Linked DNA regions of Homo sapiens. Changing the gene in region 3 together with the main gene of any one other region gives a genetic interaction. Each region holds a gene or a part of one and is shown on either strand. Other genes may lie near its edges.

Evidence for each region.
Region 1: changes in NF1 (region 3) and TOP2A are lethal when combined (synthetic lethality), as found in Homo sapiens cells (one large-scale study listed by BioGRID).
Region 2: changes in NF1 (region 3) and USH1G together harm fitness more than expected from each alone (negative genetic interaction), as found in Homo sapiens cells (one large-scale study listed by BioGRID).

Annotation. Positions count from the first base shown.
Region 1 is NC_000017.11:40,411,350-40,415,006, forward strand, and holds part of TOP2A (DNA topoisomerase 2-alpha), read right to left. Parts: intron 2,277-3,657; coding exon 2,131-2,276; intron 1,944-2,130; coding exon 1,846-1,943; intron 1,623-1,845; coding exon 1,410-1,622; intron 470-1,409; coding exon 296-469; intron 107-295; coding exon 5-106; intron 1-4. UniProt on the Homo sapiens protein: Key decatenating enzyme that alters DNA topology by binding to two double-stranded DNA molecules, generating a double-stranded break in one of the strands, passing the intact strand through the broken strand, and religating the broken strand.
Region 2 is NC_000017.11:74,917,920-74,920,412, forward strand, and holds part of USH1G (pre-mRNA splicing regulator USH1G), read right to left. Parts: coding exon 1,535-2,493; intron 158-1,534; coding exon 154-157; 3' UTR 1-153. UniProt on the Homo sapiens protein: Plays a role in pre-mRNA splicing by regulating the release and transfer of U4/U6.U5 tri-small nuclear ribonucleoprotein (tri-snRNP) complexes from their assembly site in Cajal bodies to nuclear speckles, thereby contributing to the assembly of the pre-catalytic spliceosome on target pre-mRNAs.
Region 3 is NC_000017.11:31,339,320-31,342,976, reverse strand, and holds part of NF1 (neurofibromin), read right to left. Parts: intron 2,473-3,657; coding exon 2,332-2,472; intron 1-2,331. UniProt on the Homo sapiens protein: Stimulates the GTPase activity of Ras. NF1 shows greater affinity for Ras GAP, but lower specific activity. May be a regulator of Ras activity.

The DNA.
Region 1 (3,657 bases), 9.1 Mb from region 3:
ATACCTGATGTGCTTTTACTGCAACACCACCCTTGTTCTTCTTCTTCACAACATCAACAAGTTTAGTCACAATCTGATCAGCTACATAATCAACATGTCTGCCACCCTAATAAGGAAAAATACCAAACTGTAAAACTCAGTATCCTCAAAATTATAATAATCAAACATTAAAAACTAATTTAACCTCCTTTATACTAAGCTAGCCCAATATTCAAGTCCACTTTATATATTAAAAACAATAAGAACACATATATGTAAAGATAAATCATGATTAATAATTTAAGAATAAAATTACCTTGGATGTAGCAATGCTGTTGACAAAGCTAATTTGCTGAAAGCCTTTTTCACTCATAGTTAAACACACTTCCCACCTGTGGTTTACTTGTTCATGTATTACTTTCAAGGAGTTACCAGTTTCATCCAACTTGTCCTTCAAATACATGTCCACATAACTACGAAATCCTTTTACCTGTACAGGAATTAAAGGTAACAGTATTAAGAAAGTTATTAAAAAATAGGTTCAATGATAGACTATGAGGACTTTCCAAAACCAATGCAATGATGTTCACTGATAGGCATAAGGGAATGGTCATTAAAGGACACAGGCCGAGGTGGGTGGATCACTTGAGCCCAGGAGTTCAAGACCACCCTGGGCAACATAGTGAGATCCCCACCTCTATTAAAAAGAAAAAAAAAAATTAGCTGGGCATGGTGGTGCTGCCTGCATTTCCAGCTACTCCAGAAGCTGAGGTGGGATGATCGCTTGAGCCTGGGAGGTCCAGGCTGTAGTGAGCCGTGATTGCATCACTGTACTCCAGCCTGGGTGACACAGCGAGGTTATCAAGAAAAGAAAGAAAAAGGAAAATAAAAAAAGGACATGAAATATTTATTTTAGGTGTTTCTTTGAGAAAGAAATTCCTTCGGTAAGTTTAAAATGAGCTGATTAAAAAATGTGGCATACCATTCTCTTTTCAAGAACATATGTGAGAAGTGGTAAGAAAATACATATGGTTGGGCCAGGTGCAGTGGCTCATGCCTGTAATCCCAGCACTTTGGGAGGCCAAGACGGGTGGATCATGAGGTCTGGTGTTCGAGACCAGCCTGGCCAACATAGTGAAACCTGTCTCTACTAAAAATACAAAAAATTAGCCAGGTGTGGTGGCAGGCACCTGTAATCCCAGCTACTTGGGAGGCTGAGGCAGGAGAATTGCGTGAACCTGGGAGGTGGAGGTTGCGGTGAGCCGAGATCGTGCCACTGCACTCCAGCCCGGGCAACAGTGTGAGACTCTGTCTCAAACAAACAAACAAACAAACAAACAAAAACATATGGGAGGGGAAAAAATTCAATTTTGCACTTGACAATGATTACAAAATCCCTTATTATCCTTAACATCCAGGAAAATACTCACTGGCAGTTTATTTCCATTAAGAAAGACTTTGACATCTTTGGTGGATCCAGCAATATCATATGCTCTTCTGACCATTAGTGCAACAATATCTTTGTCCAGGCTTTGCATTTTAAACTTAGACAAATCAGGCTGAAAGGTGATACATGTATAATCTTCTCCATTGAAGGGCTTGAGTTCCATCTCACCAGCTCTTCCCATATTATCCATCCATGTCTATGGAAGTAAAGAATAGGAAACATGAAAAATTCAAGTCATCTCACAAACTGGAAGTAAATAACATAAATTTATGAGTCCTAATAACCTAATATATATGCTTATAATTTTCCATACTTCAATAGCTTATAAATTATGTTAAATTAAACCAATCATTAATGCCATTATAAATGGCTATACTACTACCATTTATCATTAAGGTACAAGACACTTATTTACTTGCCTGTTTGAACATTTTCTTGTATTCTCTACTGGCTGTTTCCACAGTAAATTTGGTACTGAATATGTTACACAATTTGGCTCCATAGCCATTTCGACCACCTGGGCAAATAAATATGAAACACTATTTTATTGTTACTATCTCATTGACAGCTTTATTTCTTAATCACTGGCAGAGCTATTCAATTATAGAGATTTATTTCCATATCTTTAACCCTCATGCCACAGACAGTCATTTAAATATATATATTTTTAGCAACAAATATGTTATTTCCCCTCAATACTCTACCTGTCACTTTCTTTTCATCATCATCATAGTTACTAGAAGTTAGGAGCTGTCCAAATATGAGAGCTGGGACATACATCTTTTCAACTTTGTGTTCAACAACAGGAATACCTTTTCCATTATTCCATATACTAATTAAATTGTTTTCCCTAAGAAAAAAAGATTGAAAATTGTATTTTACAACACATTAAACGAATGCTTAACATTTAAAAATATTTAAATACTATTATTTCTAAAATATGTATATTCAGGCTGGGCGCGGTGGCCTGTGCCTGTAATCCCAGCACTTTGGGAGGCTGAGGAGGGCAGATCACTTGAGGCCAGGAGTTCTGGCCAACATGTTGAAACCGTCTCTACTAAAAATAAAAAAAATTAGCCAGGCATGGTAGCGCATGCCTGTGATTCCAGCTACTTGGGAGGCTGAAGCAGGAGAACTGCTCAAAGTGTTGGGGTTATAGATGTGAGCCACCATACCCAGCCCTCAATTTTTTTGGCACTTTTCATATATACCTTCTGAAATTCAGCAGGAACATTTCCCACCATGCTTAGTTCCTGACATTCCTGAAATAGGAGTCAAGAGGAAAAAAAAACCTTTTCCAACACCTGAATAGACACTGATAATGTTGAAAAAATACAAAATTTTAAAATGTTAGGATAAACAGAGGGAAATGATTTATGCCCAATGGAAAGAAAAGGACAATCTGGAAACATTATTATACACCACTCCCACTCCTTTTTTGAGACAGCATCTCGCTCTGTCACCCAGGCTGCAGTGTAATGGCAGGATCACAGCTTACTGCAGTCTTGACCTCCTGGGCTCAAGCAATCCTCCCACTTCAGCCTCCTGAATAGCTGGGACTACAGGTGTCCATCACCACACCTGGCTAATTTTTAAATTTTTTGTAGAGATGAGGGTCTCACTATATGGCCCAGGCTGGTCTCAAACTACTCCTGGGCTCAACTGATCCTCCCACCTTGGCCTCCCAAAGTGCTGGGATTACAGGAGTGAGTCATCATGCCTATTATACCCCTTTCAAGAGGATCATCTATACATCTCGTTCCCACTCAACAAAGTACATAAAAACAGGCTGGGCGCAGTGGCTCACGCCTGTAATCCCAGCAATCCCAGCACTTTGGGAGGCTAAGGCAGGCAGATCACTTGAGGTCAGGAGTTCGAGACCAGCCTGACCAACATGCAGAAACCCCATCTCTACTAAAAAAAATACAAAATTAGCCAGGTGTGGTGGTGTGCGCCTGTAATCCCAGCTACTCTGGAGGCTGAGGCAGGAGAATTGCTTGAACCCAGGAGGTGGATGTTGCGGTGAGCCGAGATCATGCCACTGCACTCCAGACTGGGCAATAAGAGCAAAACTCCATCAAAAAAAAAAAAAAAAAAAAGGAAAACCAATATCAATCATAAACTGCCTTGCTCTCAAATAAAATGCTGAAAACTTATTTCAGTTATTTTAAGTTAATTCTTGGATGGTACTATATTTTAGTTAATAACTCGATATACATTATGGTTCTTGT
Region 2 (2,493 bases), about 44 Mb from region 3:
CAAGGTGCAGACAGACTTTCAAAGGAGTCGCCCCAACTGGTCCTTGCTCCTGGGGAAGGGGGCTGCAGGGCTGGCAACTGTGAGGACCTCGAGACCCCACCATAGGTTGTGGCAACTTGCAATTCATTTTGGTCTGGGGAGAGGAGCCCCCGGTTATCTGTGGAGGAAGAGACAGAAAGAAACAGATCTCACATGAGGCCCTCCAGAGGCATCATTTTCACCCAGGGCAGCCATCTGGACAACTTAGCCTCCCCATCTCTCGGCAGGCCAATTGTCAGGGATGGGGGACGCCAGCCTATGGGTGACCTCCCCATCCCCAAAACTCTGAACCAGCCTGCCTCCCCACACCCATCCCTGCCCCAGCCATTCAGGATAACGGCCATAGATACCTAAGAGGAAATGAGGACAAAGTTTGTTGGGCCTGTGGGATGCCATTGGGGAGGGGCCAGGGCAGGGGCTGGCCACAGCATGACCATTGTGGTGGCAGCCTTGGGCAACTATGACGGCCTTTGGAACATGAACTCTGCCTCCAGGGCTGCTGCTGACCCTCTTGGGAGCATTTGCCCACGTTCCTGATTGCAAAGTTCAGGAACAGTAGGTAAAACATCTCCCTAAGGCCAGGCGCGGTGGCTCACGCCTGTAATCCCAGCACTTTGGGAGGCCAGAGTGGGCAGATCACTTGAGGTCAGGAGTTCGAGACCAGCCTGGCCAACATGGCAAAACCCCATCTCTACTAAAAATACAGAAATTAGCTGGGCATGGTGGTGCACTCCTGTAATCCCAGCTACTCAGGAGGCTGAGGCAGGAGAATCGCTTGAACCCGGGAGGTGGAGGTTACAGTGATTGTGCCACTGCACTCCAGCCTGGATGACAAGAGGGAAACTGTCTCAAAAAAAAAAAAAAAAAAATCTGCCTGAGGTCTTGGGCAATTGAGAGGCCCTGCTGACTGCACGCCCTGCATCCCATGGCAGCCACCTTGACCCCAGGCTCTAAAGCCATGCAGACCAGGGATCAAGCCTAGCTCCATGCTGAGCAGCAGCAGGACCTTGAGGTGAGCTATTCTAACTGTCTGAGCCTCCACTTGCTCATTGGCTGTAAAATGGGAACGATATAATCCACCAATATAGTCCAGCGCACACAGGCTTTTAGAGGGATTAAGCAAGAGGACTTGTTCAAGGGCACAACCCAGCACCTAGGAGGTGGGAGGGCTCAAAAACACCCCAGCTGTGATTCCTGTGACTGTTGAAATTCATTGACATTAAGAGGCCCATTTCCCCACTTGTCGATGTCCCCAGAATCGAGGTGCACTTTCACTGTGATAAGAATGCCTCGGGTCATCATTAAATTGGCCACTTCTTTTTCTGAGCTGGTGGTAAATAAAATAAGGGTGCCTTTTATCATCGATGGCCTCATTTCGATTTTATGAAATACAGTATCCCCCACCCCCTACTCCTGAATAGGCAGATCTGTACCCCCTCCCCAGGGGCCTTCCAACTCCTGCTCCTCCATCCCCCCCGCCAGGCTGGACACTCACAGCTCTGTGTCCTCCAGGGCCGGCGGGCGCTCCATCGCCTGCCGCCGCCTCCTCACGGCCCCCAAGATCTTCTTTCGGGGCCCCAGTGGGACGCTGATGCTGCGGAGGTCGAGGTCAGAGCACAGCATCAAAGCCTCGAGGTCGATCTTCTCCTGCCGCAGGAGGGCGGCAAAGTCCTCCATGTGCAGAGAGGCCAGGAAGGTCTCCAGCGGGCTAGTCTCGGGCTCCAGGTCCTCGTCCAAGCCTAAATCGAGCTCATCCCAGGGCAGCTCCTCCCCACAGCTGCGGTCCTGCAGGCTGTTGGCACTGCCCAGGCTGTCATCGTCCAGGCTGGGGGAGCTCTGCAGCCGACCCCGCGGCGCTCCCACCCCATCCAGACCCCCATCCTCGCGGCCCAGTCCGTGCAGCCCACTGCTCAAGTAATTTCTGCGGAACACCATGGTGCCCAGGCCGGGGCGGGTAAACAGGGAGTCGTGGCCTGAGTCGGTGCTGACCTCCGAGTGGGCAGGCTCGGCCGCCAGCGTGGCACGGGAGACGCTGTCCTCGTCCGAGAGGAACATGTCCCGGAGCGGGGCTCGGCCCCACTCCTTGGGATTGGCGTAGGTGCCCTGGCGCACGAACATCACGTCGCTGCCCAGCTGCAGGCCCGAGAGCGAGCGGGCGCTCTTGCGCCCATCCTCGGAGACCTTGAAGGTGCCTTCGCCGCCCTGCTTGCGCCGCTCCAGCTTCTTCTGCATCTTGGTCTTGCCCCTGGCCGTGCCGTGCAGCGTGGCCTGAGAGTACGGCAGGTGGCTGCCCAGCGCCAGATGCTGCAGCCGGCGGCTCAGGGTGCTGGACGTGAGGCTGGAGAAGCTGAGGGTGTCGGAACGCTCGGCCAGCTCGCGCCGGTATCGCCGCTCCATGCGTTCGTGGTGCCTCCGCTGCAGCTTGGCGCACTCGCGGATGCGCCGCTCCGCCTC
Region 3 (3,657 bases):
GTTCACACAGTAGCTTTCTTTAAAGGCTCACTTAATTTTGTGTTCAATAGTATGACAAGATAAGTAATCCTTTCAATTTGAGAGAAATTATTTTCAGTTGACTGCAGAAAACCACAGAACATTTTAGCTACTACAAATTAACTGGTGCAAGACAGTCAAGCATATAAATAAGAAGATGGTGGAAGATGAAATCACTTTTATTTACAATACAAAATAAATGACTGTCAATTTACATCCCGGTGACTTTTAACATGCTTATTAACTCTGATGCCTAGCATCCAAAGGGCACTAGAATCAATATTAGCTCCCGCTACTGGGCTGTTTTGAAGATGAAAATACCGAGGCAGATGCCCCATTTGCAATGCTCCATTTGCAAATATTCTTTTTTTGAGATGGAGTCTTACTCTGTCGCCCAGGCTGGAGTGCAGTGGCACCACCTTGGCTCACTGCAACCTCCTGGGTTCAAGAGATCTTCCCACCTCAGCCTCCCAGGTCGCTGGAGTTACAAACATGTGCCACCCTGGCTAATTTTTGTATTTTTAGTAGAGACAGGGTGTCACCATGTTGGCCAGGCTGGTCTCGAACTCCTAACCTCAAGTGATCCTCCCAACTCGGCCTCCCAGAGTGCTGGAATTACAAACATGCGCCATTGCACCCGGCCAATTTGCAAATATTCTTAACATATAAATAGCCAACAACTAGATATCGCTGACCACCACTGTCCCAAAACAGTTTTAGAAAAACGGCAATGAGAATTAGGACAGAGGGGTTCTAGTCCCAAAACAGATGTACAAGCATGGGCAAGTTACTTAACTTCTTAGTTCCTTTCTAATTTGCAAAATGGAGGTCTGATTAATAAACTCCATAAGACCTCTTACCTCTAAAATTTTGCTTCTATATTTTTCAGACCCATATCTGTTCCAGGTTCACACTACATCTGGTAGACTGAACTAATAATGTTTAGACCAAGTATCTTTTTACACTTAAAACCATAATCCTGTTCTTTGTACCCACAGTTCAGTTAATTTCACTTCAAGCAAATCTCACTGTATATACACATTCTTTTAAAAACATTCCCCTCTTTTCTCCTAGACCCTTCCCATTTTTATCCAAAGACAAAAGGGACGTAATTTCATACTATTTTATTCTCTCCTCTATTCTCTATGAACTAAAATCCAACCCCAATTAGATCTCCATTTTACAAATTAGAAAGGAACTAAGAAGTAATTTGCCCATGTTCATATATATATACACACACACATGCACACGTGCACACACACACACACACCCCATTAGCACCCCTCCTAACATTTATTAACCTTAATTGGAGTTGGATTTTACATATTTTATGTGTGTACACACACACACACACACACACACACTTTATATATATATATACACATACATTACATATATATGTGTGTATGTAATATATGTATACACACTTTTTTTTGGAGACAGGGTCTTGCTCTGTTGCCCAAGCTGGAGTGCAGTGGCGTGATCTCAGCTCACTGCAACCTCTGCCTCCCAGGCTCAAGCAATCCTCCTACCTCACCTCCCGAGTAGCTGGGATTGTAGGTGCATGCCACCATGCCTAGCTAATTTTTGCCTTTTTTGTAGAGATGGGGTTTTGCAAGTTGCCCAGGCTGTTCTCTAACTCCTGAGCTCAACTGATCCACCTGTCTTGGCCTCCCAAAGTGCTGGGACTACAGGTATGAGCCACCACTCCTGGCCACTAATGGTATATTTTAAAGTAAGATTAGACAGAATAAAAAAACTAGTAAAATTAAGTACCCAAAAGTTTCCTTTAGACTCTCCAACTTCCTTATCTACTATGAATTATACGTATTTTTCATTAAGTGGCATTATTAAGTAAAACTAAGATTACTTTTAGATTATTTCTTCACGTGTGAAATGGGGGGCAGAGAATGCTAACCTTTACCTTAAGGTTATGAAAATTAAAAATAAATGTATAGTGTTTAGCATACGGCCTGGCATGGTAGCTATTAATATTATTACCATGTATTGTTTATGCTCATTCTGTAAGGATGATCATGTATTATTTATCCTTATTCTGTAATTCTACTAGTATTAGGCCAGTACTGTTTTTTTTTTGTTTTTTTTTTTTTGCTATTTTTATGTAAAAAATATGCATTCAAGTTTACATAGTTCTTTATGAGCTGGTAAGGAAATATACTCACAATAAGTTACATTATACAAATTCCTACTTAAGTTATGGACTTCTTGTGATTTTAAAAGAATAGCAACAAGAAAAGATGGAAGAGTACTAAATTTGAGTAATCTAGGAACCTCAAGGCAAAGTTTGCTTACCTTGTCATTGAATATACGGAGACTATCTAAAGTATGCAGGTTTTGTTCAAGAAGTGCGGTACCTGCTGAATACAAGTTGACCTCATCAAGCTGCAGCACAGCCACAGCTACCCAAAAGAGGGCTTTGTGCAGAGGCGAGTCCTGGCAAAGAAGATATGTTTGAGGCTAGTAAGATGAATCATGACATAGTCTCTTTCAAAACACACTGCAGTTAAAAATAAAGCAGCTTATCTTCCTAAATTACCCATGTTTTCTCTTTTGGGGAAGATAAAGATATGAGTAAGCTCTTCACTTTTCCATATGTATAACTAAAGACACTGTTAGCTGGACTGAGAACGTTACTTAGCACCTCCTTTGACTTCTCCCTGTTCTTTGATTTCTAAATCCAGTCACCAAGGTTTGTTGATTCTTCTAGAGTAGTCTCTTTTGTATCTTTTGTCATTTCTTTCTTATTGCTAATGACATTACCACATGCCAACCTTCTTTATTATAAAGGTGGATTCTTTTTACTTCAGTTTCTCCCTACTCCAATCCACTGTGCACACTACCACCAGGAGCTAAGTCCTGCTTTCATCGTATGACTTGTCTGCTTAAAAACTGTACATTTCCAAACTCTTTTGAACAATGCTGAATGTGAGATGAGGTCTATCCAGTCCTCACAACTTTCCCTCTCTCGATTCCTTTGAAAAGCTTCTCCATTACAACTAGAATGTTCTACCCACCTTCCCTCCATTGTCCTGGCATTCTTGTGCAGCTCTCTCCCTTTCTCTCTACCTACATTAACTCCTATGTTTCCCTTTAACTTTATTTTAAACTGTCTTTTCAACTTCTTGTCACTCTTAACCAGTATGGTAATCTCTTGCTGCTCTGAATTAAAAGTATTTATTACTGGCAATCTTTACTTAGCACTGTGATATTAGGGAAAATACATGGACTTTAGAGTCAAATAGTATCACATTAGAATCATGGTTCTTTTATTAGGTATGTGACTTTGGGCAAGTTATTTAGCCCTTCTGAGCTCATTTTCACTTAGAAGATGGGGACCAGAGAACCATTTTGTATAATACAAAATTAGAATGCTTGTAGACAAACCAGGAATATAACAGGTATTATTTCTCTGTTATTTCTCCCAAGTCTGGCATACCTTTGTACTCAAATCACAGAATTAAACCACTTTAGAACTGGATGGTAATACCATGCCATTATCGAATCTTTTTCATTTTATTAATACAAAAACATGATTTCCAGATATCTTAAATATAAAAATGGGATAAGGTCAGACCATCCTAAAACAGTGGCCACTTCATTTTACTCCTTTTAAATATA